Linked DNA regions of Homo sapiens: regions 1, 2, 3 and 5 are each reported to be linked to region 4. The links are microRNA targets in miRTarBase. Many come from high-throughput screens and were not tested one by one. Region 4 holds a microRNA gene; each other region holds the end of a gene's coding sequence.

Region 1 (6,517 bases), not on the chromosome of region 4:
TACCTTGTATCATTCAAAATTCTTTAAAAAGAATTTAGTAAAGATTTTATTTATGTACCTTTTTCTTTCTTTGCAAAGGCTGTTCCTTAGAATGTTTCTTGCATAGGAAACTGAACATATGGTCTGTACTATTGTTCCCAGGCTTAGTCAGCTGCTAGAGCCATAGTCAGGAGTTTAGGTAGTACTAGATCCAATCCCAAGAAGTCATTAGTTGGTGGGGAATGGGTAACTTTGATTTTAACTGTTCTCTTGTCTAAGAATTCCTTTACAAAGCAGTGGGGCTTTGGAGGAAGTGGAGGAAGAGGGCAGAAGGGAGATTTTTCTTCCTGTTACCAGTTTTATAGGTTTTTCTTTATTCGAATAGACAGTTCTTTATCTTAAATTGCTCATTGTGAAATTGAGAAAGTAGAAACCTTATCCATTGTGCTGTTCTATCATATGATCATATATTCCTCATATTTCTGTTTCAGTGTCTCATCCAAAGAACAGCTATTCGACCAGATCCCGATGTAGCTCAGTTACATCTGTGTCCTTGAGTAGCCCAAGTGATGCCTCTGCTGCTTCCTCTTCCACCTGTGCCTCTCCTCCCAGCCTTACAAGTGCTAACAAGAAAAACTTTGCACCGGGAGAGACTCCTGCAGCCATAGCAAACTCCAGTGGCCAGCCCTACCAGCCACTTCGGGAGGTAACCTAGCTTCTACACTGAGCATGTTAGGAAGAAAACCCTCCAGATTGTCAAAGCTTAAATGCTGTTAGCTCAGTATATTATCTTCCTCTCTATTCCCATTCCATGCCTGTTTTGAATCCCTCCAACCCAAGTTAGTTCCTGAGAAAGCATTAGATACGTATGTTCCAAACTGCCAGCCAGTTTAGATTTCCTGTTGCCAAGAACTGCTGACTTTCTTGTGTTGGCAGTGATCCCTGCTGTTGTAGATAGTATTGCCTGGTAATTAGTCACACTGGGAGTCGTGCACCCATCTCAAGGTAGACAGGCACCACAAGTGGCAGTTTTACCAGTGTGCATCTGAAAGCAGCAGCTCCCTAGAAGCACAATGTGGAATTTACAGGGAAAGAGAGAGTGAACTGGTGGGGATGGGGGGAAAACACTAGAAAGCTGAGGAGTAATCCATAGGTTCTTCTCCTGTTTGAAGAATAAACACAAGAGCAATCCAAGGCAGTACTGTCAGTAATTCTTCAGAACTGGTATGATGTTTGGAATTGGAGGACAAAAATAAAATCCCATACCGTAAGCTTTCCGGATTATAATGCGAAAGATGTGCTGAATGCCACAGCAGCATACTTTAATCTGTAGTTCATGACATTTAGCAAAGCAGGCCATAGTGATGTTTACTTTATTATTCCAAATGTGTATTATCTTTACCAATGGCCTTTTATCTGCAGAGTTCAGACATAATATAATATACTTGTCCAATCGAGGGCTTGTAACAACCCAGAGAATGTTCTTTCTTCCTTATCTTTCTTCTTGCATCCAGCTAAAGAAAAGTAAATTCTTCAGTGGAGAAGAGCCTGGGCATGAAGAGCAGGGAAAGATGGATTAGTTCTGAAGTAGTGGCTAGGTTGGATTGGCTGAGAGAATTCTTTGAGTCTTGAGAGATAACTGAGTCCCAAGCATGGGATACCACAATTCTGCTTTCAGAATACTCCTGTAAAGTGAACGAATGGGGTACCATAATGCTAGAGCACCTTGAACATTGTATTCTTTCATCTTTAGGTATTGCCAGGGAACAGACGAGGAGGACAGGGCTATAGGCCACAAGGCCAAAAGTCCAATGACCCCATGAACCAAGGGCGGCATGACAGTATGGGTCGTTACAGAAACAGCTCGTGGTATTCATCTGGTTCCAGGTATCAGAGTGCTCCATCTCAGGCACCAGGAAACACCATTGAAAGAGGCCAGACTCACTCTGCAGGGACCAATGGAACTGGAGTCAGCATGGAGCCCAGCCCTCCCACGCCTTCATTCAAAAAGGGGCTCCCCCAGCGCAAACCCAGGACCTCTCAGACTGAAGCCGTGAACTCTTGAGAGAAAATCCAGTTGGCCTCTCTCCTCTATCCACACAATTCAACTTGATAACTGGACTTTAGGAAACTTACAGTTAGATGTAATAACAAAAAGAAGTTTATGCGTATCACTTTTTGTGCCATTCTAAGTATTTTTGGTTTCTTGTCTCCTTATTTCCTCTTTACCATTTTTGGAGGGGAAGCTATTTTTTTTCCTTGATCTTTCCCAGTGATATGGATTGAATCTGGTTGGTCATTTCCACCAGGAATCAGAGGCAGCTGTTACCAGGTTTCGGCCTTCCAGTTGATCCCTCCACTGTCCAGGCTGTCTCAGGAGGAGGTGAATCAGAGCTAGTCTGTCACCTTTCCAATCTAAGCCGAAGCCACAGGTGCCTGACAGGTTCCCTTCTAACAACTATTTGACCAAGAGAGGCAATCAGGGGGTTGTATACTGCACTGGATTCGCCAGAGAAGGGAAAATTTAATTAGTGAAAAGGAAAGAACACTAGGAAACATTTGAGAACCTGCCTCTATCCCAGAATGTGCTGGAGATTTGACACTCAAATCAGTGTTTAGTCTTCTGCTTGGCACCATAGCTTAACCTGCAGTTTCTTCAAAATGCCCAATGCCTTGTTTCCTATTACCTTAGATTGCAAACCAGTCTAGGGAAGTCTATGAGAAAGTAGCATTTAATTAAAGTTTAAAAAAAAAAAGGTTGGGCGTTGTGGCTCATGCCTGTAATCCCAGCACTTTGGGAGGCTGAGGCGGGTGGATCACTAGGTCAGGAGTTCAAGACCAGCCTGGCCAACATGGTGAAACCCTGTCTGTACTAAAAATACAAAAATTAGCTGAGCATGGTGGCGTGTGCCTGTAATCTCAGCTACTCAGGAGGCTGAGGCAGGAGAATCGCTTGAACCCAGGAGGCGGAGGCTGCAGTGAGCTGAGATTGTGCCACTGCACTCCAGCCTGGGAGACAGAGCAAGACTCAGTCTCAAAAAAAAAAAAAAAAGCATTTTTCTGTTTTAATGTTTGGAGACTTTTTTTTTTGTTCTCTCCCTTTCCTGAACCCTATTCTGATCCTGAACCAAATTTATAGCAATATAATTAGTGTTAATCTAAGGCATTACTCATCAAAAAAATTGCTGCAGTCTTTACAGTTGAATAAATAAAAACAACTGCATAAATATGCCCACTTTTGTTTCATAGCAGCAAGTGGTTTCATTTCATTATGTTTTTCTTTGGGCCTCATGGGGGTAGAAGTCACTCAGACAGCTTGTTCCAGGATTAAATGAGGGTATCTGATTCCCAAGTCATTTGTCTGCCACCACTGCGTAGCTTCAGAACCAAATTAAAATATGAAAGCCAGGAAGAGCAAATGCAGTTGTTCCTAGTGAGAAAGGATCATAGGATAGGGAATGGTGACTTTCCAAAGGAGAACTTAACCACTTTAAGAAAACCACAGCTCTCCAGGCTCTCCCAGGTAACCAAAGTTTATAATGGCACTGCTCTCCCCAACTCCCTGTCCCTTGACTGAGTATTGAACGTAACCGTATAATTGAGCTCCTGCGTGTAGCAGGTGGCATGGGTGCCAGACCCTTCCACCCCACACTCACCCCCAGCATCTGTGATTTAATCACAGCAGAGCTTTTCTTTCTCTGGCATGTGTTCTCCCAAGTCTGAAGCCCAGACTGTAAGTGGCAGCCGTGCAGAACGTAGCTGCCTCAGGGCTTCCCTTGCCTCCTTGGCTGAGTGAAGCTGAGCTGCCAGGGTTCAGGTTGGTTGAACACATTCAGAGAGAGTGTGTGTGTCTGTCTGTCTGTCAGTAAAGAAAACAGTAGTCAAGGAGTTCTGGGTATTTTCCAAGAGCACCTCATTTTGGGGAATTTGTCCAACGACACCAACAGCCTGCTGGGTGTCAGGAAAAAGCCCTGCATTTCTGATTAATTGCTTACCTGTACTTTATCAGAAATCCAGAGATTGAAGTGACCTTGAAGGATTATGAGGTCTGTCCCTGTATCCAGGCAAGACCGTACTTAACCACCCAGACAGATGGGACAAGGCATGTTTATCAAAAATGCCTTGAAGTTGAAATTAAAATCTCCTTATAGAAAAATATTTGAAAATTTTTCATGACCACAAAAAGTTTGAAAATTATGAATTAAAAAAGTTTTTATTACGAAAGTAGTATTTAAAATATCAGTACAGAAATATAAAAGGAAAAAAAGTTATCCATCTTTCCACTTCTCAGGGGTAATGACTGTTAATTTGGCATATATCCTTCTACACCTTTTTTCTTTTTAGAAATGGGGTCTCACTGTGTTGCCCAGGCTGGAGTGCAGTAGCTATTTACGGACATGATTAGAAGGGACTCTTGGGCTTAAGCAATCCTCCTGCCTCAGCCTCCTGAGTAGCTGGACTACAGTTGTGCACAATCACTCCTGGTTAGACTGTTTTTAAACCATGTATGTGCATATACACATGAGTATATGGGTTTTTAATTTTTTTTATACAAAGATCATACTGGGCTGGGTGCGGTGGCTCACGCCTGTAATCCCAGCACTTTGGGAGGCTGAGGTGGGTGGATCACCTGAGGTCGGGAGTTCAAGACCAGTCTGACCAACATGGAGAAACCCCATCTCTACTAAAAATGCAAAATCAGCTGGGTGTGGTGGTGCATGCCTGTAATCCCAACTACTCAGGAGGCTGAGGCACGAGAATCACGTGAACCTCGAAGGCGGAGGTTGTGGTGAGCCGAGATCACGCCATTGCACACCAGCCTGGGCAACAAGAGCAAAATTCTGTCTCAGCTAGGCGCGGTGGCTCTTGCCTGTAATCCCAGCACTTTGGGAGGCTGAGGCGGGCAAATCATGAGGTCAGGAGATCGAGACCATCTTGGCCAACATGGTGAAACCCCGTCTCTACTAAAAATACAAAAATTAGCTGGGCATGGTGGCTGGTGCCTGTAATCCCAGCTACTCAGGAGGCTGAGGCAGGAGAATCACTTGAACCAGGAGTCGGAGGTTGCAGTGAGCTGAGATCGCACCACTGCACTCTAGCCTGGCGACAGAGAGAGACTCTCAAAAAAAAAAAAAAAAAACGAAACTGTCTCAAGAAAAAAAAGATCATAGTACTATGTATATTCTGTAGTTTTTTAAATAATATGTGTAAACTATAATTCATTTAGGATCTCATGCTGTGGATCTTCTCCTAAATTTGCCAATTTGACTCTTCTTCAATGAGAAGTTAGGTTTATCCTAAGTTTGAATTGTGTAGCCCATTCCTCATTGCCCATAGTGGTTCTAGGCTTCCCAAAAGAAGGAAGATACATCCCCTGGGCAGTTACCACTGGTGCACCAAGAGGCCTTACCTAACCATTGTTTGTCCTTCTCTTTCCACTTCCTCTTTCAGACAAATGTCTCACCCTGCCCAACTTAAGAGATAGGACTGCAACTTTAAGTTGTTTAGCTCTGCCAGTTACATGACACTTGAGAGGCAAAATTTAAATTAGCATGGCTTCATTATGAACATCATATATTTCCTATGCCCCTAATTTATGGCGATTTAAAAAAAATGTGCTTTTAAACAAAAGTGCAGACCAGCTTTTTTTTTTTTTTTTTTTTTTTTTTTTTTAAAAAAAAGGGACCGGGCTGGGCGCGGTGGCTCACGCCTGTAATACCAGTACTTTGGGAGCCCAGGCGGGCAGATCACAAGGTCAGGAAATCGAGACGAGACCATCATGGCTAACACAGTGAAACCCCGTCTCTACTAAAAAATAGAAAAAATTAGCCGGGCGTGGTGGCGGGCGCCTGTAGTCCTAGCTACTCGGGAGGCTGAGGCAGGAGAATGGCGTGAACCCGGGAGGCGGAGCTTGCAGTGAGCCGAGATCTTGCCACTGCACTCCAGCCTGGGCGACAGAGCGAGACTCCGTCTCACAAAAAAAAAGGCGGGGGACAGGGTGCGGTGGCTCACGCCTGTAATCCCAGCACTTTGGGAGGCCGAAGCTGGCAGATCACCTGAGGTCAGGAGTTTTCAGACCAGCTTGGACAACATGGTGAAACCCCGTCTCCACTAAAAATACAAAAAAAATTAGCCGGGCATGGTGGCGGGTGCCTGTAATCCCAGCTACTTGGGAGGCTGAGGCAGGAGAATCTCTTGAACCCGGGAGGCGGAGGTTGCAGTGAGCTGAGATCGCGCCACTGCACTCCAGCCTGGACAACACAGTGAGACTCGGTCTCAAAACAAAAACAAACACAAAAAAGGGTACATAGTAGAAATTTAAAAGTTTTCTCTACCTTGTCCCACTCCCCCGAAGAAATCGCTGGTTTCTTACATGTCTTTCCAGAAACTTTCTAAACCCAAACATAGAAGTACCTTTTCTTTCTTTTGCATAAATGGGATTCATACTGTGCATACCCTTATACAAGTTGCTTTTTTCACTTGTCCTCACTTTTTGTAACTCATTTTTTTGTTTTGTTTTAAGAAAAATCAAGTATAT
Region 2 (6,517 bases), not on the chromosome of region 4:
GAAAGAAAACCCTGTGAGCACCCGGGGTTGTGTCAAAAGTTTCCCAAATGACATAAGAAACTGGCTGGAGGTGGTTGTCTGGGAATATCCCTGGGTCTCTCATTTCATGACAGCTTGGTAAAAAGAAGACACTAGATACACTTTCTAAAAGCTATCAATAATATATAGATAGTATATGTTAACACATCTTTTTCCATTTTTTGTTTAACTGCTTATTATATGCTAGATACTATGCTGTGTAAAAAGTACAACAATCCCACAAGGTAGATACTATTATTAACCCCATTTTCCACGTTCAGAAACAGGCAGCGCAAGGTTTAATAACTTGCCCAAGGCTACACAAAGTGGCAGAGCATGGATTTGAATTTGAAAAACTACCACCAGCAATAGGTCCTTATGCATTCCACTGAATTTATGCTACCCACTCTCATTCTCACCATTCTCCTCAAGGTGGGCATTATTAGCCTCAACTTACATTAGTCCTGAGCAACCTGAGGCTTGGAGGCATCTGGTGGCAGAGCCGGGTTTCAATGGCAGCTCTCTGGAAAAGATCACAGAGCATGCCTTTTCTTAGTCCTAATTACATAGCAATTACCATGTGCCTGCAACAAGGAAAAAATTCACACCTTCAGAGCACCCCCCTCCTAGGTCTCCTGGATTCAGGGCTGGTGGAATAAGGGACAGTAGAGAGTCCACCTCACCTCAGAATGTCACCTTCACTAGAGCAGTCTCCAATAGAAAGTGTATTTTAGAAGGAAGATATAGTAAGAAGACACAGCCGGCCCCTGAAGTGGGCCAACAGATGGACTGTGTCACTTCCATCTGCTGGCATTGACAATGGGGAGGAGGGTTGTCCATATACCAGCCAAAATGATGAGAAACACTGCTTTGAAGCATGGCTGTCTATTAGTAAATGTTTCTATCCACAGCTCTGTAGATTGGGAGACCAAAGGATTCTTTCTTTGCTCTTATCTCCAAGTCAGACAACCCCATTTTAGACTCATGTTCTTTGGGCATTAGTATTGAAAATTCAGGGGCTCCAAGCTCAAATACCCTGAGAGGAGTCACTTGCCTGAGGCCACCAGCTGGTAGAGACAATGACCTCAAGGCCCACAAAGGTGAAGGACCTTGGCAAGTGGGGACAGATATAACCAAACGCAGTGCGAACAGATAAGTCTAGATCATGTCCGAAGCATTGGGTGGGGTCTCTACAGTGACCAAGGGGCAAAATGAGTGCAGAGGTGGGGGAGCTGCCTGAGAAGGGGAAAGAGTCTGAAGGGGAGTGAAGATTCTCTGCCCACTTCACAATTTTTCCTGGGCTCACTCTGTCCCTTCCCTTCCCCTGCTGCCAAATGCGGATCTCAAACCTACACCTAGCCTTTCCTCTTGACATCACCACTTAGTTGTAGGAAGGTGAAGAGAGCACAGGCTTACACTGTCACCATACTACACCATTTTGCCTCTAAGGAATGATTTTCTAATACTTAAACAGCTAACAATTAGAGTGTAGTAGAGTGTGTACAAAGAAAACGGGCTTTAAAGACGTGGTCTGATGATATAGTAAGAAATATGTATCTGGTCTCTACGCCTGAGTTTCTGACGCAGAGCTCCTAAAACCCTCGTAGATAGGGGTGCTAATCTTTTGTTCAAATATTTGGTCTTTGACCCTCGTTCCTGACACAGAACTCCTAAATCCCTTGATAATTCCCGGGTGAGAGGAGCATCTTTTGTTCCAGTGAGGTGACTTTTTGGTGGGCTCCTGGATAGCCTCTGGATGGGGGCTTGTTGCCAGGGGGATCAATCATGTGATTAGAGGGTTGCAACTTTTGTCCCCACCCACCTCATGACCCGCAGGGAGGGGTGGGGGCCTAAAGGCTGAGTTGATTCCAAATGGCCAATGATTTAGTCAATCAGGCCGGCACAATAAGCCTCTATAAAAAGCTAAAAGAACTGGATTTGGACAGCTGAACCCATGGAGCTTCCTAAGGGGTGGTATACCTGGAGAGGTCACTGAAGCTCCACACCCCTTCCCACATGCTTTGCCCTGTGCATCTCTTCCAACTGGCTAGACATTTATAGCCTTTGTAATATCCTTTAACAAACCAGTAAACTAAGTGTTTTCCTGAGTTCTGTGAGCCACTCCATCAAATTAATCAAACCTGAGGGGGGTTTTGTGGGAACCTGATTTACAGCTGGTTGGTCAGAAGCACAGGCCACAACCTGGGACTTGTGGTCAGCATCTGAAGCAGTGGTGAGGGGGAGGAGGGGGCAGTCTTGTGCCTTAACTTGTGGAATCTGATGCTATCATCCAGAAGATAGCATCGGAACTGAATTAGAGGACACTCACTTGGTGTCTGTTAGAAACTTGCTTGGTGCATGGAGAAACAACTCTCACACCTTTGGGTGTCAGAAGTGTGAGTGCTGCATGAGACTGGGAAAAGCACCTTGGTTTGGTTCTTTTCCATCCTTTGTAGGATAAACAGACCTGGTTTTAAACCCCAGTTCCATCTCATCCTGTGTGACTTTGGACAGATGGCAACCTCTCTGAGCCCAATTTCTTCATCTATTAATGGGTTGTTGTGAATGATCTGACACACAGCAATATTCTCTTCCTCTGTTCTTTATCCTTCCCCAAATGGAAAGAGCTTCACCTACTCCCTAGGAATTACTCTTCTCAACCCCCAAGCCCAGAGAGTAAAACAAATGATGGTAGGCTGCTCCCCAGTCCCTATCTAAATGACCTGTGGATCCTCAGTGAGACCCCAGGCAGCCATTGTTGAGAAGCTGGCCGGGGAGGCTGGTTGGATTGTGAAGTTAATCCCCATTCCTTCCCCTCAATGTCCTAGTAGCTCAGTGGCTGTTTTAAAAAGATGCAAGTTTACTCGCTCCAGATAGGTACAGAAAGAAGAATAAATGGAGAATGTGGTGGTTGGAGAATCTTGAAGAAGAGTGAATGAGGTCAATGCTAATTTTATAGATCTAAAACAAACAAACAAATAAACAAAAAACAACTATTGCCAAGACTTCTAGACAACATGTAGCAATCTTGGCTAACAAAGAAAGCAAATGAAGCAGCATCACACAGCAGGTCCAAAAAGCATCATTTGAAATGTCACATATGACCTCTTCTGTTGTTCAATATGCATAGATTAACTTGATAAGAATGGCAAATTCATACGATGTGTCAGACCATCTTTATTGATTTACCCTAATGTTATGCATAAAGTTTATCTCTTCCCCCCATTCGTTCTCATCCTCCCTTCTCTCTCTCTCTCTCTCTTTCTCTGACACACATACACACACATAAAGAAGCAAAGTCACCAGCTGAGAGCGAAGTTTGGGGTGGAAGTTTTGAGGTTTGAGAAAAAAGAAGTCTGAAAGTCTAACCTCTTTTTGAAATGTGCCTGTGATGAAGAGTGACAATCGGCAAAGCAAATCTAATAGGATCTCTAAAGAGCCTTTTCCTGTTGTTTACAATTGTGGCTAAAGCCCTGCACTAGAAAACAACAAATGCTAAGATCCTCCCTGCATCCCCTACCCCCGACCCCCTGGGGCACACACAACCCTCCTCCACCACGTTCTAAAAAGACTGGAAGGACTTGGAAAAACATTCCTATGGGATGAACTAGAAGGTGGCAGGACTGCTATCATCAGACCTCATTTACCCACCGCTTCCAGCTGAAAACCAGGGATTTCACAAAGGAAAAATCATGAGAGTCATAGTTCTGTGGTTTTCTCAAAAGGAGAAGGAAGGGACGCTCTTCCTTCCCACCCCTGAGAACAGGCCAAATGAGAGCAAGCCCACTGGCTGGACTGAGGGTGACCAAATGAATGTGACGATGGCATCTCATTTCCCAGGTGGACATGTGCTGGGCAGCATGTGCCTAGGACTGACCCAGAAGACACACAGCACCACACAACAGGATTGATGTGATGACAAGGCCAAGACAGAAGGCTGTGGGAGGAGTGAGGAGAAGGTGGCCAAGTGCCTGAACAATCAAAGCAGGTTTCACTCAGGAAGCTCTATCTATCTGAGTTGGGTCTTGAAGGACAAGTAAGAATTTATTATCAGGTAGACAAGGATTGGGAAGAGCATCAAGAAATGAAGAAAGGTGATGTATTCATTGGAACATGATTAGTTTAGCATGGTCAATTTGTTATTCGTAAACATAACTCTGGAGGGTAATGAGGGAAGCACGAGCTAGGAGGCTAGTTCATAACACTCAATAGATACTGATTAATGCCTATTGGCTGCCCAAGCACTGTGCTAGGTTCTGTTTAGAAATAATGCAAACAAGCAAACAGACAATAACAAAATTGGTAATGTGTTAACTGCCATGATGAGGAGAGTACTGAGAGCAGCTCAGAGCAGCATCTCCCAGACTTGAGTAGCTTGGATTGCAGAAATCCAGCTGAAAAATCCTCAGTGCAAGAAGGCAATAGAGGTGATAGATTCAGAGTATATTTAGGAGGTAGACCAGCCTAGCAGATATTGTTAGGACCCCACATATGTCCCTCACTGTTCCCATGCCCTTTACAGCTTGCCCCTGCAAGTATCTCTGAGTCTTTACCTGAAGACACTAAGGTTTGGTTTGTACAAAGGGTAAGCCAAGAATTACCAGGGAGTTAGCATCCCTGGCAGTGGTCCTCAACCAGTGTCAGATGGAAGTCAGTGGATAAATACCCCAGGTTTGCTTGCCCTTCAAATGGGACAGTTCTGAGGAATGCTTTAGGCAGAGGACTCAGATGGCAGAGTGCCAACCGCCCACAGTGGAAACCTGCTCATTAACATACCCCATACTAGCTCTCTTCCCTTCCTGGTTTCATTTCCCCATTCTCATATCGGTATTTCCTGGAATCATCTCCCATATAAACTGCTTGCATTCAGATCTTTGTCTCAAAGTCCACTTTGTGGGAACCCAACTTGAGACAAACAGAAAAAACTTTTAGAACAAGTAGATGATGAAAATGAAGACTCAAATATGAGGTCATGAGATTTTTTGCTTGCGAGACGCTGACCCTATCAATTGAGCTAAAGGACTCTTCAGTGTAAGAAAAGGGATAGATTCTGGAAGAACAGGATGAGCCTGAAAAAACTGAGCTTAAGGTGCCCAAGGGACTTGTTATCTCAAAATTCCCTGAGTACAAGGTTAAGACTCTTGACTTTGGAAAAACTGAAAAGAAATAGCAGAAAAGGAAATACACAAAAGAAGAATCCATCAGAAGTGAACATCACGTCTCCCTAAAGGGAAATTACAGTGTCTTCTTTTGACCCGAGAGAATATAAAGCCCTAGCTGTCTCTTCCAGCCGGTTTCTGTATTCTAGTTTCTCATAGTTGGAGGGACTCACTCCTTTAAAACCATACATAACTCCCCACCAGCAGCCAGCAATGGCAGCTGTAGAATCACTGTCTCCACCATGGAAAAAGGCTCGGTGGGCAAGCTCCTTCCAGGAGTCTCCTGCAGCAAGAACAGCATCGTAGGCAATCATGGGGGCATCGTGCCCACTGCTGCCACCCCAGCCAGAGTAGCTCAGGGAGGTGTAGAACTGATCCCTCTCCTTCACACCGAAAGACTCAGGGAAGGTAGGGGCTGATTCTCCATCCAAAATCCCTCTAAGTTTTAGGTAATTTTCCCATTTGGTTTGGAAGTAGGACCTGTAGAAAGGAAAAAATCTAGAGTCAATTGAAAAAAATAAAGTGAAAAGTCATAACAAAAAGCACCAGATGGATGTGTGAACAGAGAAAAATCCAACATAACTTCGGCTTCTTGCAGTAATATCATAAACTATTTAAACATCAAAATTATTTCTATATAAGTACCATTCATTCAATACATTTTTCATAAGGATCTACATAAATAAGGCATTGATCCTGTTGCTAAATAAAGAGATACATATCAAGTTAAAGGGTAAGAAATACAGGTTTGTTTTCCCTGGGAGGGTCGAGAGTAATGACCTTTTAAAGGGGAACTTCAAGACATCACAACTGTGGGTGACTTCAGCAGAAAGCCTCTTTTTATTCTAAGAAAGACAATGTGAAGTGAACTCACGAGAAGGGGAAGATGTGGCCTTACCACTTATTAGTTAGCTAGTGGAAAAACGTATCTCTGGAATTTTAACCAAGGATTTCAAAATATTATTTGTATACCAAGACAACACTGAAAAAGCAAATTCCAGGAAAGTAGGAAATAGGCATGAAAATTCATGGCAGAATAGGATAGCCACAAAAATGACAGGATTCCGTGTAAGAGGGAAACACCACAGCTGCCCTATTCATTGAGGTATCCACTTGGCTACTTTGTAGAATCATTACTGGAAGGGAACTTGAAATCCTTAGCAGATGGGTAGAAAGGGGGCTGGGGGTGAAAACCATGAGGGTTGCTGTGATCTCTGAATACAAGACATATATGTGCAGGTGGATGTACACGCACAGATTCAACCGTGTTTGAGCAGGGCGTGCGCTTACAGACTCACCAGTGTTGAAGATTTTCCTCTACAAAGTAGCCTGATTGGACA
Region 3 (6,173 bases), not on the chromosome of region 4:
CTCAGAAGGGTCCCCCAAGGAGTGGTTTAAGAAGAGAGGCAGGCGCGGGGAGGAGGGAGGAAGTTCCTCCGCCCAGACTGGATGAAACCCTTCCCATCCTGCAGAGCCGTGAGCAGGGAGGCACCTTGCCTGTGGCTCTGGGGCAGGGGTGGATGGCCTGGGGACGATGCTGATGCCCAGGGAGGAAGCATTCTTGGCCAGGCTTTAAAAATGTGTAATTAGGCCTAGAAAATATTTCAAGGCCCCATCCAACTCCAAGAGCCCATGTTGCTATGGCAGAGCCCATTGGCACAGCCTGGAGGTGACCTGCAGTTCTAACCAAGCGTCTTCCTTGTCTGTCAGGACATTAATGAAATGGTACGGACTGAACGACCCGACTGGCAGAACGTGATGCTGTATGTGACGGCGATCTACAAGTACTTTGAGACCTGAGCATGCCGGGAGGAGCCGCCCCAATAGCGGGGGTACCCCTCCACAGCGACCGAGCGACACCGACGCCATTAGCTACGCACCCCTGTAAAGCTTCCAGCAACTCTGGGCTGCCCCACAGCGTGTGAGCCTCCAGCTCGGGGCTTCCGTATTGGAAGAACTCAGCCGTGTGGCCCACAGCTCCCACCAGGGCCCCTCCCACATGACCCGTCCATTCAGGTCATGTGGGCTCAGCACACATCCTGCAGGCCGGTGGCTGCTGGAGTTTTCCTTCTGAAGAGAATATTGAACTACACTAGTGCTCCAGGGCACCAAACAAAAAGGGCTCATGCACAGCTGAATTTGGGAAAAGGGATTCAGTTCTGTGGGAAACTCACTAGGGTTGATGAAGGCTCGGCCGCGGCACTTCCTGACTATTGGCTGGGGTGGGTTCCGGTGCTGGTGAGAACCCAGAAGGAGAGTCAGCGCCTGGCAGTTCCCAGCGCCCTGGGCCCTTCACCGTCCTAGTTTGGAGGAGCATGTTCACCACAGACGTGGGTCAGCTGCCCCACACCTGACGGGGCTGTCCCGGCCGACACAATCCAGGCGTGTTCAGCCTGAGCTAGGAGAGTATCTAGAGGGCGTGGTGCGGGCACGCCAGGGCTGGGGTGCTGCTGCTGCACTCACGCGGCTGGGCTTTCTGGCGGGAAGCAGTTACGGGGGCCCCTTGCCTGGACTCAGCGACCTGTCTTCCAGCCTGGAAGGGGTTTGGAGTCCCAGCTCTGGCTTTAGATTTCTTCATCATAAGGAGTTTTTCTAGTTAACATTTTTGTTTTGTTACGAGCAATGCTGGAAAAGGTCGCTCCTGTTCTGTTAGTACCAAAGTTACATTGTTTCAATAAGCATAGAAATCTAAACAACATCTGTACATTAGCATGGTGAGAGCAAGGAATAAAGCAGGAAATAGGAGAAAAGTAAACAACTTTAGGGAGCCCAGGCAGTGTCATTTAAACTCACTGAGTCACTAAGACATAATTCTCCTAGGCCAGAGTTAAAGAAAGTGCCTTAACTCTTCTTGTGAGGGCAGCCACTGCCCTCCGTGGCCAAGGCAGGACCTCCAAGACTCAGTGGTTGAGTTGTCTCCTACCACCATGCCCGCCCTCCCCAGGTACTGGGTCCATGCCCCCTGTGCCCACCCTCCCCAGGTGCTGGGTCCATGCTGTTTGAACCAAAGCCTTATTTAAAGGTGGTCACTGGAGATGCTCTCAGGCCAGAACTCAACAGCTATTTTTGGGAATAGGGATCTCCCGTGTGCCTAACGCAGTAGCTATTGGTTTGAACAATGTCCAGACAAGACCTGTACCTTTGAGAATATAACTGTGTTTGGCACCTGCATAGCACCATGAGGAAGACCAGCCACCAGTGGAAGCGGGGTCACTGCCCCACAGACTGGATGCAATGAGGGGCTCACAGGAGGCCCAGCCAGCCCGATTGTGGGCTGAGGGGTCTGCATTCAAGCACGATGTTCTAGAATAGGAGTTTAACGTGTCTACGTAACCTAGAATGTGGTTATTAGGAAAGGGGCTGTGCATGTGGGTGCAGCTGGCGGCACACCTGGTCACCAGATGGCCAGAAGCTGCCCATCAGCCCTGCCCAGATGTCAGCCTGGGAGCTCAGGCTGCTGCCGCTGGCTGGATGCCCTTTGGTGAAATGCCTGTTTTCAGCTAAGAAAGGAGAGGCCAGGCAAGCAAAGTCATGCCACAAAGCATATCAGAGACCCCCGCAGACTCCTGGCCCCGTCCCGCCCCCTGTCTGAGTTGTGTTTTTGTTGCTGTTCCTCTGTTGATGGCCAGCTCTGCTGTTGGCATGAGCCACTGATGTTCATGTGAGAATTACTGTTTTTAAGTGTCTCTCCACTTAGGTGTCCTCAGTTCCCACTTTTGCTCTCATTTGCCTTCACAGAGGCCACTCCACCTGTCCGGATCCAGCTGTCTGGTCATGGTTTGGTTTATTTATTTTGTCCTTCAGGGGCTGTTTTGCCCTAAGAATGAGGGGGCTTCCCCTGGTCTGCAGTTCCCAACTTTATCCCTTGCTGGCCATGCGAGCCCAGCCCTGGTGCCTCATGGGATGGGGGGGTAGGGGTCCCCAGGATCTTCTGGAGGAAGGTGGCCATGGATGGATGGGCTGTATCTGTGTTTTCCCTCTGGGAGTCTCATGGGTCCAGCATCAGGCCTGAGGTCAGCAACAGGGAAAGAGGGTGGGCACGGGGAGGGCTTGGCCCCGCCTATCTAGAGGCTTGCCTCGGGCCCCTCCTTGGGGAAGGTTTGCGTGCAGAGCTGCAAGGGAGAGGGTTCCAGAAGCATTGCCTTTTGCCTCGTCTAATAGGATCCTTAGGACACTGTGGGCTTTAGGAATGACTATAGATGCTCACACGTGTTTAAAGTGACATTTGGAGATGCTCTCAGTCCTGTGGCATCTGGCACGAAGTCTCCAAGAAGCCACTTTGCCTCTTCTCCCTTCAAGCACAAGCTTTACTGCAAAAGGGCCAGTCGCGTTTCTATTTCTCTCGATCCCAGGCTTCTGCGGACCGACGATACGTTTAAATGTTGTTCTAGTAAATATTCTTGAATGTATTAAAATGGCTGAAACAACAAGCTTGGGCTTTTCTAGCTTGCCCTCCACTCCCTGCCGTCCCTCTGACGTCGCATAAACCAGAACCCAGCTCCCTCCTGGGACTGGCTGTGGAGAGAAGGGCACCTCTGAGCCAGCCTGTGGCCCTACCCCAAGGCGCACTTCCTCATGTGGGCAGATCCTGACCAGGAGTCCAGGGTGGCCTCCCCTGGGCCACAGCACATCACCGTGTGGCCTGGGGCTGTGGGACAGTGAGCCCTGTAACCACTAGGGTTCTGTGACAGATGCCAAGACCCCAGAGACCGTGGCAGAGCTACCCCCAGGAGAGCGGAAGCCCCTACACAGCCCAGACACATGCCTTCCCTGGGGGCTGGGGAGTGTGTCTCGAGGGGTTTTGTTTGTTTTGAGGCATGTATCATCTTGGAAATAATTGTCAGGATGTATAAAATAGAGAAAAAGAAAAAAGGTATCCTACCCAGAGGCAACCAGATAAACTTTTTTGCCTGTGCATTGTTTTTTGTTGGTTTTTTCGAGACGGGGTCGATCACGGCTCACCACAGCCTTAACCTCCAGGGCTCCAGCAATCCTCCCACCTCAGCCTCCTGAGTAGCTGGGACCACAGGTGTGTGCCACCATCTCCAGCAGTTTGTTTATTTATTTTTTCTTTTTTTTTTTTTGGTAGAAATGGGCTTTTCGCCATGTTGCCCAAGCTGGTCTTGCACTTCTGGGCTGAAGCAATCCTCTCGCCTTGGCCTCCCAGAGCCTTGGGATTACAGGTGTGAGTCACTACAGTGATTGTGAATGCACTGAGCTGGCCTGGAGAACACTTACCACCTTGTCCACGTCACATGCAAAAGGCCCATGGTGGTGGTGCTTCCTGCACACGAGGGCATGTAGTGAATGCCCTTCCCAGGTGGAGACTCCTCAGGGTTGGGAGCCCAGCAACTGCCTTGGCCCTGAGTAAGCCAGGAGTTGCACTGTGACCTGCAAGTGCTTGGGAGCTGCACCCCTGGGTGCCAACAGCTGCAGGTACCCTGGGGTGGGCAGTGGGCAACAGCTGTAGAGCTGGGAGCTGGGCGTGAAAGGACTGGGGCAGGACTGGGCTTGGACTCAGCTCCTCCCTGCTCAGCAGCCCCTTCGTTGTGTCCTCTGCTGTGCGGAAGGGGTTCTGCCCTAGTGGTCAGCAAGCATCCATGGAGCCTGCCGGGCGGGCCCTGTGTGCAGCGGCCTCCACACGTCAGCAGGGGACTGCCGTCCCTGCCAGCGCACCTGGGCCTTGTCCTGGGCAGCACAGACCCCTTAGCCACCACTCCCAGGTGGGGCGGTCACTCCCAGATCCTCCATCCGTCCCGCCTGCAGTGCAGCTGCCTTGGATGCTGATTAGGGTGGCCCTGAGGGGATCCTTCTGTCCCAAGTTACGGGCCTGCGGGGCCCGTCCACAGTGCTGTGCCCCTCAATTTGGAGCTGGCTCTGCTGCTTCCCAGGGCAGCACCTATGGGGAGGGCATCGTTTATACCTTGACTCAAAGTTCCAGGATCTCAGGGACAGCTTAATAGGTGGAAGGGGGAAGCTGTGAGATTCCAGGGAGAGTGGAGAGATTCCAGGGAGAGTGGAGAGATTCCAGAAGGATCCCTTACACCCCTCCAGCACCCTCAAGGGCCTGCGGTCCTGTGCCCAGACGCCACGCCCTGCCCCAGCAGCCCTGCCTGGCCAGCTCTATGGCCCCAGCCCCACGGGGCCGGCACTTCGTGCAACCTCGGGGTAGCCTGGGTTCTATTTTAGGTTGTCCCTTAGGTGAGGGACCGGGGCAGACAGAACCAGTCTCAACATGCTCGCAGCCACTTCCCCGTACATCAGGTGAGTGAGGACAGACTCCTGGGTTGCTGAGATTCGGGGATCTGGATTCTGGCAGGAGCTTTGACCCCAACAGGTCTGGACCTTACTGGGCATCTACAGGAGCTGGGCCGGGCACAAGAGAGGACTCCATCTCTCCTGCCTGACAGGAGAGGACTCCACCTGACCAGCCCTCTCAGGCTGGGAGTGCCTCGGGGAGCCTGCTGTGAGGCAGGGGGAGGGGTGCGGAGAGACCGGGCACAGCTTGCCAGTTGACTGCACCAGGCCCAGAGCAGGTGCTGAAAGGTCTGGTCTTTTGTCTGCACCCTCCCGTGTTTGTGAGGAAGGGGTGGCAGGGGGTCTGCAGTCTTAAGGGCCAAGCAGAAAAGAAGGGCCAAGGCAGGCACCCACCAGGCAGGAAGCAGGTGTGCCCTGAGGGGAAGGACAGGCCATCGCAGGGCTGGGTTGCACCCAAGACTTCTGCCAGGAAGAGCACTGAGGAGTCGGGACACACAGGTCCTCCCCAGGTCAGCCACCGACACTTGGGATGTGCTGGGCTTGTTTCCACCTCTGCAAAGCAGGGCCCCCTTCTGGGCCCTCATATCAGGCACTCTGACATGGGGTACAGTCCTGGCAGGTCATGGGGCTGGGGCCACAGGGAGAGCGGGCAGGTGGCTTAGAGCCATCGGGGTGATGAGTGGCAAGCCCCGGCATGAGGGCTGCAGAGGACTGTCACTGCCCACGCTGGAGCCAGGGCTCCACTCCCCTCAGGGCCTGCTTTCACATCTACGCCGATCATCCCCAAGGCCGGGTTGCTAGCGGGTTGCTGTTTGTCCTGACACCCAGAAGCAGATATGGGGTGAACATCTTGAGTGGGGTGGGGTGAGTTGGAGGATGATGACCAGTGACTCGGAGATCACTTCCTCCGTATGTTTCTTCTGCCTTTGCAGGACCTCTGTTAGGATAAACTGGAGCCTTGTGAGGTCCCTGCCCCATTGGAGAAGTTGGGGAGCACCCAGGGTGACCCAGTTGGTTTCCAGGGACCCTTCCCCTGCTCACTGGCTGCTTGTCCTGGGCCTGGCATGTCTTGCTCCTGATGCAGCTCAGCTGGCCTCAGAGCAAACAATGAGGGCCAGAGGCCACCAGGTGCATCCTGGGCAGGAACAAAGGGCCGGAATCCTGGAGCTGGGGAGGCCCAGCTGGCCCCGCCGCCGCCGGGCCTGAGGATCTGGAGCCTGGATGGAAGGAAGGGTGGGCGCCCACAGCCTTTTCAAAGCCTGCCTGGGGCTGGGCAGGGAAAC
Region 4 (4,000 bases):
GATCATTTGAGCCCAGGAGTTAGAGAACCAGCCTGGCAACATAGTGAGACTTCATCTCTACAAAAAAATTTTTCAACTAGCCAGGTATGGTGATGCACACCTGTAGTTCCAGCTACTCAGCAAGCTGAGGTGGGATTGCTTGAGCCTAGGAGTTTGATGGTACAGTAAGCTATGATCACACCACCGCACTCCAGCCTGGGTGACAGTATGAGACCCTGTCTCTAAAGAAAAAGAAAAAAATATTGCTAAAAAAAAAATTAAACAAAGACATTTGGGAGGGCAACACAGGAGGATCACTTGAGCTCAAGAATTCGAGACCAACCACAGCCATTTTATTCATAATATGCAAAACGTGGAAATGACCCGATGTCTATAAGTTGGTGGATAAAGAGTTTGTGATATTCTATACAATGAATACTACTCAGCAATAAAAACTGTCCAACTGCTAATATACAACATGGATGAATCTCAAAGCATTATGCTAAGTGCAAGAAGCCAGACACAAAAGACTGTATAATGTATGATTCCATTTATATGAAATTCTAGGAAAAGTTAAACTAGAGATCAGTGGTTGCCAGGGACTTGGGGAAGAAGAGGTTGACCACAAAGAGGCACAAAGGAATGTAGGGGTCTCACTCTGTTGCTCAGCCTGGTCTGGAACTACTGGGCTCGAGTGATCTTCCCACCTCAGCCACCCGAGTAGCTAGGTCTACAGGTGCACCACCATGCCTGGCCACAAAGGAGCTTTTTGTAAAGTAACAGAAATGTTCTATATCCTGGCTGTGGTGGTGGTTACATGACTGTATACATTTGTCAAAACTCGTCAGTTCACTGGGCATGCCACACCCCTGTAGTCCAAGCTACTCAGGAGGCTGAAGTGGGAGGATTGCTTGAAGCCAGGAGTTCTAGGCTGTGCTGCATTATGATTGCCTCTGTGAATAGTCGCTGCCCTCCAGCTGGGCAACACAGCAAGACTTCGGCTTTGCTTAACAAATAGCTTACTTACTTTTATTTTATATAATTGTATCTCAATAAAATTCATATTTTTTAAAAGTGATGAATCCACACTATTGTATCTCATAAGAATAAACTGTAAAACAAACACTCTTAGGTTTTAAATTCAACCATTTCCTAGACAATACACAAAATTAACACCAATTAAGATTTGGAGGACTAGGCACAGTGGCTCACACCTATAATCCCAGCACTCTGGGAGGCCAAGGCAAGAGGACTGTTTGAGCCCAGGAGTTCAAGACCAACCTCGGCAACACAGTGAGACCCTGTCTCCACAAAAAATTTCAAGAAAATATTAGCCAGGCATGGTAGGACACGCCTGTGGTCCCAGCTACTTAGGAGGCTGAGGAGGGAGGATTATCTAAGCCCGGGAGTACAAGGCTGCAGTGAGGTGTAACTGGGCCACTGCACTCCAGCCTGGGCAACAGAGAAAGACTCTGTCTCTGGAGAAAAAAAAATGACTTGGGGCAAGTAACTGCAGGAAAAATATACAGCAGAAATTGTTTCCATCACTACCAATTCATCATAAAACTCAAATAAAACCTAAAGTTTGACAGAACCTATCCAAATATGTAACAGAAAGCAACAAATTATAAAGTATTACTCATTTAGACAAACCATAACAACTTAGATATAAAAAATATTCTCCAGACGTGTTTCATAATGCAGTAAAATATTGTTTTTAATTAGTTAAAAGGTTTTTTTTTTTCAAATTATGACTTTCTAAAAGATATACTGTTAGTAACAACATTATAGTTCTCAGCAACAAAGGTTGTGGTAAATTATTTACTGATACCGAAGAAAGATGTAAGGTAAGAATCAAAATTCTGGCGTGCATCCTGCTTTCAGATGCTTTGACAATACTATTGCACTGCTAGCTGTAAAGTACAGTAGTGCAATAAAGTCAGAGCATTCGTTAGCAGTAATAAGTAGGAAAGGAACACAAAAGCATCTTGCATCGGTTGAAGCTTCAGTGAGAAACGAATTTAAAGTAGGGTTGCCATTTTGGACAGAAAAACATCCAAAACCAAAAAACATTTATATCAATGTTTTTTTAAAAAAGGATAAGACTTAAATATCAAAGTGATGTTGCTTATTGATGACTAATATACAAATTAACATTCGAACAGAAACATGCATAGATGTAGAAAGGAATTTTGTAAATATGCCCTAAGCCTTAATAGTAATTAGAATGGGTATTGTTAATACTTTAGGATTGGTATTAACAAAACCAGTTATAATTACTACTAAGGCAAAGTTGTGAAAAATATTTTTGTTCTCTGCAGAGATGTTGGTTAGCTCCTTCTTCAAGGCAATTTACTGATTAAACGCCATGTAAAACAAGCCCTTTGAATAAAAGTATCAAAGAAAACAAATGAAAAGTAAAATAATAAGTTTCTCAATCTCTACATACTCAATCTATCACTCTGGAATCTAAACCACTAAACAAAGAAAACACAAAAGCACTTACCATCTTACAGCTTTTTATCTTGAGTTTACTAAGGGCTGTCATAACAACAGAAGGGAATCAATGTGCTCTAAACAGAACATTAACCCTATCTAACTGAATACTATCCAAGGGGATTTTAAAATTTCAGTTAACTCCTGAAATCTTAAATAGAGGCAGAAAGCATCTCCATTTCCTTCAAACTTAGAAATGTCAAAGAGAAAATAATGATGGGGGGAGGTGGGACTGAGATTTAAGTAACAAGTTTCCTTAGTTCCAAGCTAATTGACATTTTAACTTTTTTAACGGATAAGAACCCAATCAGAAGTCAGATGTAAACCCAGAAACAGAAATAGTATCATAGTATCACACTGCATTACCTTTTGTGTACAGTCACTAGTAGTACCACGAAAGAACAAAGCTAAACAAATACCACCCCATCATTAAGTGAAGGGGAAAAAGTCAGAGAACAAAGATTGCCCTACAATAAGCTTATTCCCCCATTAGTAATGTTGATTGATGCAAAAATATATTTTCATTATTTTCACCAACCTCCCTTTAAACGGTCCAATTCAACTACTTAGTCGGATTGAGCCTACTAAGGAAATGGGCTCATACAAAGGACAGCTGAAATATAAGTGTCTTGGTGTCAAATCCTGGGCCACATAACTAAAATATTAGAATATTTAACGCTGGTAGCCAAGTTTCAGGTTTTAAAGACAACTGTTTAAAAGATAAGTGTTTAACTTTCTGAATTGGAAGTTATTACAAACAAGAAAAATATTTAAAAAATTTAAGGTATTAACAAAATTAGGATAAACACTTTCTTTTCAAATTAAATATTATGCATTTCCTTTTACCTTGACAAATCCTTTATTTAACTGATGTAAAACCAAAAATCAGAAGATAGCACAGGAATCATTTACTCTTAAAATCTTATAAAATAAACTGGTCCACAAGTATAACATTTTTTTCTAGAAGCACATGGTAAATCTGAAGATGAGATGCACTGTCTTTTATTATCTAGTCAACACAAAGCAGTAATAATTAGAGCCATGATAAAAATTCATTTCTAAACCCTAATAATTATGGAAACAAACTAATAACCTGAAAGGAAAAAAAAAAAAGCTACCACTAATTTACTTGCAAGGATGTAAGAAAGGAAAAAAACCTCATTTCTTTTTTTCCTGTCTTCAAAAAGAATTTAAATACTACCCCATCATTCAAACAATACCTAAAAGTTTAAATGTCTGGCTACCTTATAATTTTCTAAAACCTACTTTTTCAAAATGTTTACTTCATCATTGTTCACTTAAAAGAGAATTTGTTCAATCTAAAGAAGTCCTGTGAGAATACTGACTCTACTGTAAAAGCCAGACGAAGTTTAAAAATTAGAAACAGCCAATTTGAGAAGCAAACAACCTGTTAAAAGCAGAATTAGCATCATTTAGCAGAAATGAATTATGAATTTAAGCAGAAATATCTATATCAGTAGGGAGGAATTCAGAATGGGAGAAGGGCAAGATAGTCTTAACATTT
Region 5 (6,517 bases), not on the chromosome of region 4:
CCATTCTATTGTATTTTTTAAAATGCTTCTGTGACCCATTAAATTGACTTTGCAACACACTACTGGGTCACAACCACAGAATGGTAGCATTCTGCCTCCCAACGTGAAATTCTTTCACATTGGGGCTAGCCCACCCAGCCCAGCAGGGGTTGGAGCTGTGATGACCATTGAGCAGGGCCCTCCATTAGGTCACTGAACCCTCTACTAAACCTCCCCATGAGAACAGCCTTGCTCACCTACACAGGCACATACACGCACACACACGTGCATGCGCGCACACACACACACACACAGTTTCTAGAGGGGGTGCTGTTGACTGCAAGTAATAAAAAGCTTAATCAGAAATGGCTTAAGCAGGAGGAATATTCAGTGTCTCCCACAACCAGAATTAGAGGGTTGTAGGGTCGGTAAACCCCTGGGTTCAGTGCTACCCTCTGCTCTGCCCACCCCAGTCTCATGGCCAATGCCTCGCTAGTGCTTCTGTCAGTCCCAAGATGGCTGCCACAGTTCTGACATCTCATACAGGGACATGCCCAGAGGCAGAAACCGGGAGAACACCTGCTCCCTTTTCTTCTCTTTTTGGAATGAGGAGAAGCTTCCCAGAAGCCACCCTCTCTCAGCTTCCCCCTCACATCTCATTAGATTTGTCCCACATGCCCATGGCTGAACCAAAGGAATGGAATTATCTTCATTGCCAGAGATTCATGTTTTTCAAACTAGTAGGGTTGAGATGTCAATTTAGTGGGTATTGGCTACCATTTTTCAAATGGAAAAGAACAGAATATGTCATCATGCGTCACAAATAGGTTAAGTATTGTTTTGTGAAACTTTTGTTTTAGTCACATCTACCTGAAAATGTGTAGTATGTGTGTCAGATCCTGGGTAGTGATGTAAATGACCCCTTCCTTTGCACCCTTCTCCCAGGACGGTGGGAAGCAGCTCCTGGAAGGCATGTCAGACAACAAGACCCTCCTGGAATTTGACTTGCGCCTGTCAGATGTGGCCCAGGAAAGCGAGTACCTCATTGGCCAGGCCCTCTACGCAAACCGAGAAGCAGCCCGCCAGCGGGCCCTGAATCCCAGCCACTTCATGTCAACCATAACTGCCAATGGCCCTGAGAACTCTGTGGGATAAAATGACCTGACTTGGATCATGGCCCCAGCCCCATCCCTCATTTCATACCCCTGCCATGCCTGCTGCAGAGTATCACACTGGTTCAGAGGGAGCGGGGAGGGGGACTGTGAATAACCTTGGAGTGATCAAGGGTTGTATGGATGGAGACATGAGGCAGGGAAGGGAGCCTGGCATGGGGGAAGAAAGGGTATGCAGTAGGGACCCAGCCTTTGTGCCCAGGGAAAGGATATTACTGGACACCCACAAATGACCAACTTCTTTCAGGAACAGGGAAGTCAGAGAGGTGTCTGAGGGACTGTGCCTGCCAGATTCTCCCGTTGGGGCTGCCTGCCTCCCTGACTCCCCACCATTTTCTTCTCTACCAAACAGATCCTTGATCTTCAAACACACACACACACACACACACACACACACACACACACACACACACACCCTCTGGCTACAGCAGGGCTATGCCTGGCTCTCTCTGCCACCCTCATCCCTGTAGATGCATTTCCCTGTTGCTTGACTCTGCTTTAAGTGATCCAGTTCTACAGGCCACGCCATCCCCTAGTTCCCCAACTCCCAACCTGGGAAGGGGACAATGAGCTGACACCAGGGGCTCAGACCCAGTGGACTCCTCTGGGGAGGCAACTGTAGATGACAACTTCCAGGGAAGGATGACACAATCCCTGCCACCCACCCCAGAGAGCTTCCCTGGGAGGGAGGGAAAGAAGTGCCACACTGGGACAGGAAGTCAGTGAGTCATCCACGACTTTATTATCCACCAGTTTGATTTGTACAATCTTTGCGCTTAAATCCACGACAAAAAGGCCACAGTGTGATGCACCCAATTGACAGAGACCTGTCTTCTCCCCAGCCAGGCCCAGCCCACCCCACAAGCCCTTGTCCCCAGGACACATGGAGCCTTCCAGGTGCCCTACATGAGTCCCCCATCACTCTGTAGCTGTCCACCCTGGGGCCACACCTACAGGAATCACATCAGCCCCCAGGGCCACAAGAGACCTAGCTGACTGATTCAGGCTGAGCGCCATTGCCCATCCTCCTTGGGCTGATTCATTGGCCCAGAGCCTCCAGAACTGTGTCCCCAAAGGGCAGGTCATGGGCTACAACCCCAGTCCAGGAGTGCCTGCTCTCCAGGGACTCCTTCCGCTAAGCAGGCGCTGAGCAGAGCACCAAAGGGGGCTTGGGAGTGACTGCATGTGTGTGCCTGTCTAGGCAACCTAGAGTCTGTCTGTGCCTGACACCCTCTGACAGTTCCGGAGTGCAAACGTGTAGGTGTGAGGGTGTGTGTGTGTGTGTGTGTGTGTATAGCCACAGCTGCTAGCAGAAGTTCTAATTAGAGAAACAAGAACATTCAGTGTAAAGTTTAATTTTAGAGATTAATTAATTTTCTGGTTTTCATTTTCCCTGGCAATCAGTAAAGCTACCAAGAAAATAGACCAAAGAATTGGTTTCTCTCTAAGTCTGTGCATGTGTGGGAGATGAGGCTGTCTGAGACGACCTAGGCAGAAATGGTCAATACAGGCAAAAATAATAATAGAGGTCCCCCTTCCCCTCTTGTGAGACCAGGCTCTGTCTCAGGAACAGGCCTGAGGGAGGAGGAGCCACGTTCCTCCTTCCTTGGAGCCCTGAGGTGGCCAGGCTGTCCCCACACAAAGCATGACATCCAGGTGCCAGCTGGCTAAGAAATGGAGCCTGAGGCTGCAGCTCACCACCTGTACCTCACAGATGTCCATTCAGAGGAAAGAAGGGTGCTCCAAACGCCAGGCCCCCAAGGAGCACAGACTCAGGGTCCAGGCAGGTTCAGTGCTAGTAGGCAGGTGGGCACTGCTGTCCAGGAAAACCTGGTGGGCAGCTGTTTCCCCTGCCCAAGCCTCCCTCTCTCTAGCCTCTTCTCCCTCCTCACTCAGCCATCTCTACCTGAAAGTAAAGCTAAACCCTTTAGAAGCCATGGGCCATGGTATCCCCACAATTTGGGCCCCTCGCACTCCCCGCTAGGAAGAAGGGAAGGGGAGCCAGAGGCGATGTTGCATAGGTGGAGGCCACACAGTTGGTGGTGCAGGCCTGGCTGGGCTGAAGGAAGATGAGAGGGGCTGAAGGAGGGTAAGGAGGAGTTCTGATGGCTCAGGCGAAGTAAGAAGCATCAGGGGTGAGAGATGTGGGTGGCCCAAGGGTTATCCTCTCTAGCCTGAAATGTGAGCTCAATCCCTGGGTGCTAAATCTGCTGGGGAGACTTTAGCCAGGGGAGTTGGCAGGGCAGGAGGGCTGTTCACAGACATGCACACTGAAGCACATCAGGGTGGAGGTGGTGGGGGGAGCACACGGAGAGAAGGCGGTGTCAGAGCTTTAGGGGAACAGGACGTGGGGCCAGCGCCCTGGGGTGGTGGCAGGATGCCCCTTTGAAGACCCTGCGACACACAGCAGGGCTTCAGCTCATAGGATAGGGAAGGATGGAAGGGTTGGGCAAGATTTAGAGAATGCTTGCCTCTGACCCTGCCATTGGAATTATTTCTCCAGTTGGGGCTTGTGACAACGTCCTCAGTCCCCCAGAGATGTGTTTGAGCGACAAGCACACTCCACTCCTCCGCACAGGTTTAGGGAGGCAAAGGCCGCCCCCACAGACACCCCACCTCTGGAGGTCCTTTTCCTCTACCCTCCACTGCCCTCTCCTCTCTTACTCCCACCTGCTTCCAGAGGTCCCCGTTGCCACCCAGGTCTATGTCATGCTCTCTCCCCTTAGTCACTCGTGCTGGCCAGCTTTAACGAGTGCTGCCCGGGTGGCATCTCACTCTCTAAAAGGGGTATACACTCAGAACCCAGGTGAGGAGGCCCCTGTTGGGAGGCTGAGGAGTTTAGAGAGAGGACTGAGGTACACAGTCCTCCACATTTCACTCCCCTCCCCACTGCACCCTGGCAACAGCTCTGCAGGACTGGGGAGCGGAAGGTGAGTGATGTCTGTGCAGTGAGCACAGTCCCTCTGGACCTGGAGTGGGGGCCCAGTTAGATAAACAACAGTGGAGGGAGCGGCAGAAAGGAAACCCCAATCTTGGGGTCAGCGCCAAGAAGAGGGCAGCAACATTTCCACGGTGTTGGATGGAGGCCTAGGGCTGACACCTGGCCCCAGCCTCAGACCTGCTGAATGCATTAGCTAGTTGGAATCCAGCCTGCTGGTCACCAAACCATTGCCCCCTCCATAGAGAGAGGCCCCAGGGGAGTGAGGCCACGAAGGAAGGAAAGCCCCAAGTTCCCTTCTCCACAGCCTCTAAATCTCCCATCCGCATGCCAGGGCCTCTCCCTTCAGACAAGGCCCAACGCGGGGCCCACGGCACGGTTGTCATCTAACAGAAGATCTGTTGAAGGGCTGGACAGGAGGGAGGTGTCCCTTTAGGAACTCAGGGTTGGGGCTGGAAGAATGACTCTGCCAGGGGGATCTCGGGGAGCAGCCGACCCCCTCCCACCCATCGGTCTCTTTATGTACAGGGACAGCGGGGGTCTCGGCCCCATCCGGGCCTGTCTTGCGGCCCTCACCTCCCTTTCCCTGCCCCCCGCGCGGCCTCAGTCACCGTGGTGACTCGCCCTGCGTCGCAGAGGGAGCACAGTCCGGCGAGGGGCAGGCGGGAGGACGGCGCGGGCCACTCCGGGGCCGGAGGTCACAGTGAGGTCTCTACGCAGGAGCCGTGGCGGTGCAGCGGCCGGTGGCTGTGGCCCAGACACCCCTCCTGCCGGTGGACGATGAGGACCGGAAAGTAGAGGGCGTCGTGGTAGGGCGGCGGCGGCCCGGCCTCCTCCTCGTCGTCGTCCTCGTCGTCCCCCATGCTGGCCTGGCTGGACAGCCGCGTCTGCTCCGTGGGGCAGCTGGCCTCGTTGACGCTCCCGCTGCGGCTGCGCCACAGGCAGCTGCGCCGGGAGCCGTAGAGACGGCCCAGCGAGAAGCGGCTGCCCCCGCAGCCCGCGCCCCCACCGGGCCCCGGGCCGGCCCGCGGGCTGGCGCAGATGCTTAGGGCGCTGCGCGAGAAGATAGACGAGCTGCTGACGGCGCGCTGGCAGTGCTCGCAGCTGCGCCGGTAGGGAGCCACGCCCGCCGCGCCCGGGCCGCCTACCCCACCGTAGCGGCACGAGGGCGCGTAGCCGCCGCCTGCCCCGCCGCAGCGCGTCCCGAGCCCCGCCAGGTCCATGAGCACCGCCTCAGAGTAGCTGGGCACCAGCTGCTGGTTGGAGCGGATGTGCCACTCGAGCTCCGTGCTGTCTACTGTGTTGACCCGCGGCAGGCGGTGGGTGAGCGGGGGCAGCAGCTCATCGCTGGGGCTGAGGCCACCGCCTGCGCTGCTGGCCGAGCCCGGGCCCTCCAGGCCAAATAGCTTCTCCACGTGGTAGTGCGCGTAGGCCGTGCGGTACTCGGCCAGCACTCGCAGCGGCCACGACAGCGTGAGCAGCGCCGCGGCCCAGAAGGCCGACGAGCAGGCGTACCAGGGCGGCCGGGCCGGGTCCGGGAAGGCCACCATGAACTCACGGAAGTCCACGTTCTTGAGGTGCATGCCCTCGCGTGCCTCCATGTAGTCGTCTAGGCCCTCGTTCTCTGCGAAGAAGCGCGCGCGCTGGCACAGGTACGCGTTCTCGGCCTCCACGCTGGCGAAACTGAAGCACTTGGTGAAGCGCAGCCGCGTGGCCGGCGCGCCCTCCAGCCCCACCAGCGTCTTGGACACGTCGCGAACGCCGCAGCGCGCGTAGTCGAACTCAGCCTCCGCCACGTGCGTGTTGACGCGTTCGTGGTAGACCTGCGGCGCGGGGGGCAGGCGGCGGGGTCGCGGGGAGCCCGTCATTGGTGCCCGCTTCTGCCCACTCACCCTTTCCCGCCCCATCTGTGCTCTGGTTGCCTGGTCGGACCCTAAGTCTGTCTTGGTTTAGGTGCCGGCTGGAGCTGGTTAGGATCTTTCCGTCTGACTTACAGGGCAACTGACGCCCTCTGTGTAATCAGACGTGATGACCGGACTAGAACCAGCCCTACCTGTGCGCATTTAAATTTTTTTTCTTTTTCTTTTTCTTTTTTTTTTTTTTTTTTTGAGATGGAGTCTGGCTCTGTCGCCCAGGCTGGAGTGCAGTGGCGCCATCTCGGCTCACTGCAAGCTCCGCCTCCCGGGTTCATGCCATGCTCCCGCCTCAGCCTCCCGAGTAGCTGGGACTACAGGCGCCCACTACCACGCCAGGCTAATTTTTTGTGTTTTTAGTAGAGACGGGGTTTCACTATGTTGGCCAGAATGGTCTCGATCTCTTGACCTCGTGATCCACCCGCCTCGGCCTCCCAAAGTGCTGGGACTACAGGCATGAGCCACCGCCCCCGGCCGCGCATTTAAATTTTAACTAAGCCCTGCTTCCTCTAGGG

What was found. The annotated mature microRNA hsa-miR-301a-5p reads GCUCUGACUUUAUUGCACUACU and lies in region 4 at 1,904-1,925, opposite strand. An mRNA with a match to its seed (bases 2 to 7 or 8) in the 3' UTR can be bound and repressed. Matches are read on the target gene's strand: a 7mer-m8 pairs with bases 2 to 8, a 7mer-A1 pairs with bases 2 to 7 and ends in A, and an 8mer does both.
Region 1: miRTarBase lists SPATS2 as a target of hsa-miR-301a-5p. The part of its 3' UTR that is shown has no 7-base or 8-base seed match.
Region 2: miRTarBase lists ADPRH as a target of hsa-miR-301a-5p. Seed matches in the 3' UTR shown: 7mer-A1 at 4,557-4,563 and 8mer at 3,282-3,289.
Region 3: the mRNA of SPECC1L is a reported target of hsa-miR-301a-5p. Seed matches in the 3' UTR shown: 7mer-A1 at 2,179-2,185.
Region 5: miRTarBase lists TMEM151B as a target of hsa-miR-301a-5p. Seed matches in the 3' UTR shown: 7mer-m8 at 3,623-3,629 and 7mer-m8 at 2,383-2,389.

The regions. Positions count from the first base shown.
Region 1 is chr12:49,524,212-49,530,728 of GRCh38, forward strand. It overlaps SPATS2 (spermatogenesis associated serine rich 2), which reads left to right. Exons shown (of 14, transcript NM_023071.4): 13 at 471-685; 14 at 1,733-3,214. The coding sequence ends at 2,044. Among named protein-coding and RNA genes, the nearest start is that of KCNH3, 12 kb to the right of the region's middle.
Region 2 is chr3:119,586,604-119,593,120 of GRCh38, reverse strand. ADPRH (ADP-ribosylarginine hydrolase) reads right to left here. Exons shown (of 5, transcript NM_001125.4): 4 at 6,476-6,517; 5 at 3,176-5,657. The coding sequence ends at 5,243. Among named protein-coding and RNA genes, the nearest start is that of PLA1A, 8.0 kb to the left of the region's middle.
Region 3 is chr22:24,414,192-24,420,364 of GRCh38, forward strand. SPECC1L (sperm antigen with calponin homology and coiled-coil domains 1 like) reads left to right here. Exons shown (of 17, transcript NM_015330.6): 17 at 343-3,547. The coding sequence ends at 432. SPECC1L-ADORA2A (SPECC1L-ADORA2A readthrough (NMD candidate)) reads left to right here. Exons shown (of 20, transcript NR_103546.1): 18 at 343-553. Among named protein-coding and RNA genes, the nearest start is that of ADORA2A, 10 kb to the right of the region's middle. RefSeq lists a silencer at 3,477-3,653 and enhancers at 4,164-4,773, 5,992-6,173.
Region 4 is chr17:59,149,284-59,153,283 of GRCh38, forward strand. It overlaps MIR301A (microRNA 301a), which reads right to left and starts at 1,938; the gene lies at 1,853-1,938. The region is part of intron 1 of SKA2 (spindle and kinetochore associated complex subunit 2); the gene reads right to left. RefSeq lists a silencer at 817-896.
Region 5 is chr6:44,274,798-44,281,314 of GRCh38, reverse strand. TMEM151B (transmembrane protein 151B) reads right to left here. Exons shown (of 3, transcript NM_001137560.2): 3 at 1,871-5,912. The coding sequence ends at 4,788. It overlaps DRC5 (dynein regulatory complex subunit 5), which reads left to right. Exons shown (of 5, transcript NM_182539.4): 5 at 925-2,581. The coding sequence ends at 1,134. Among named protein-coding and RNA genes, the nearest start is that of TMEM151B, 7.6 kb to the right of the region's middle. RefSeq lists an enhancer at 5,114-5,906.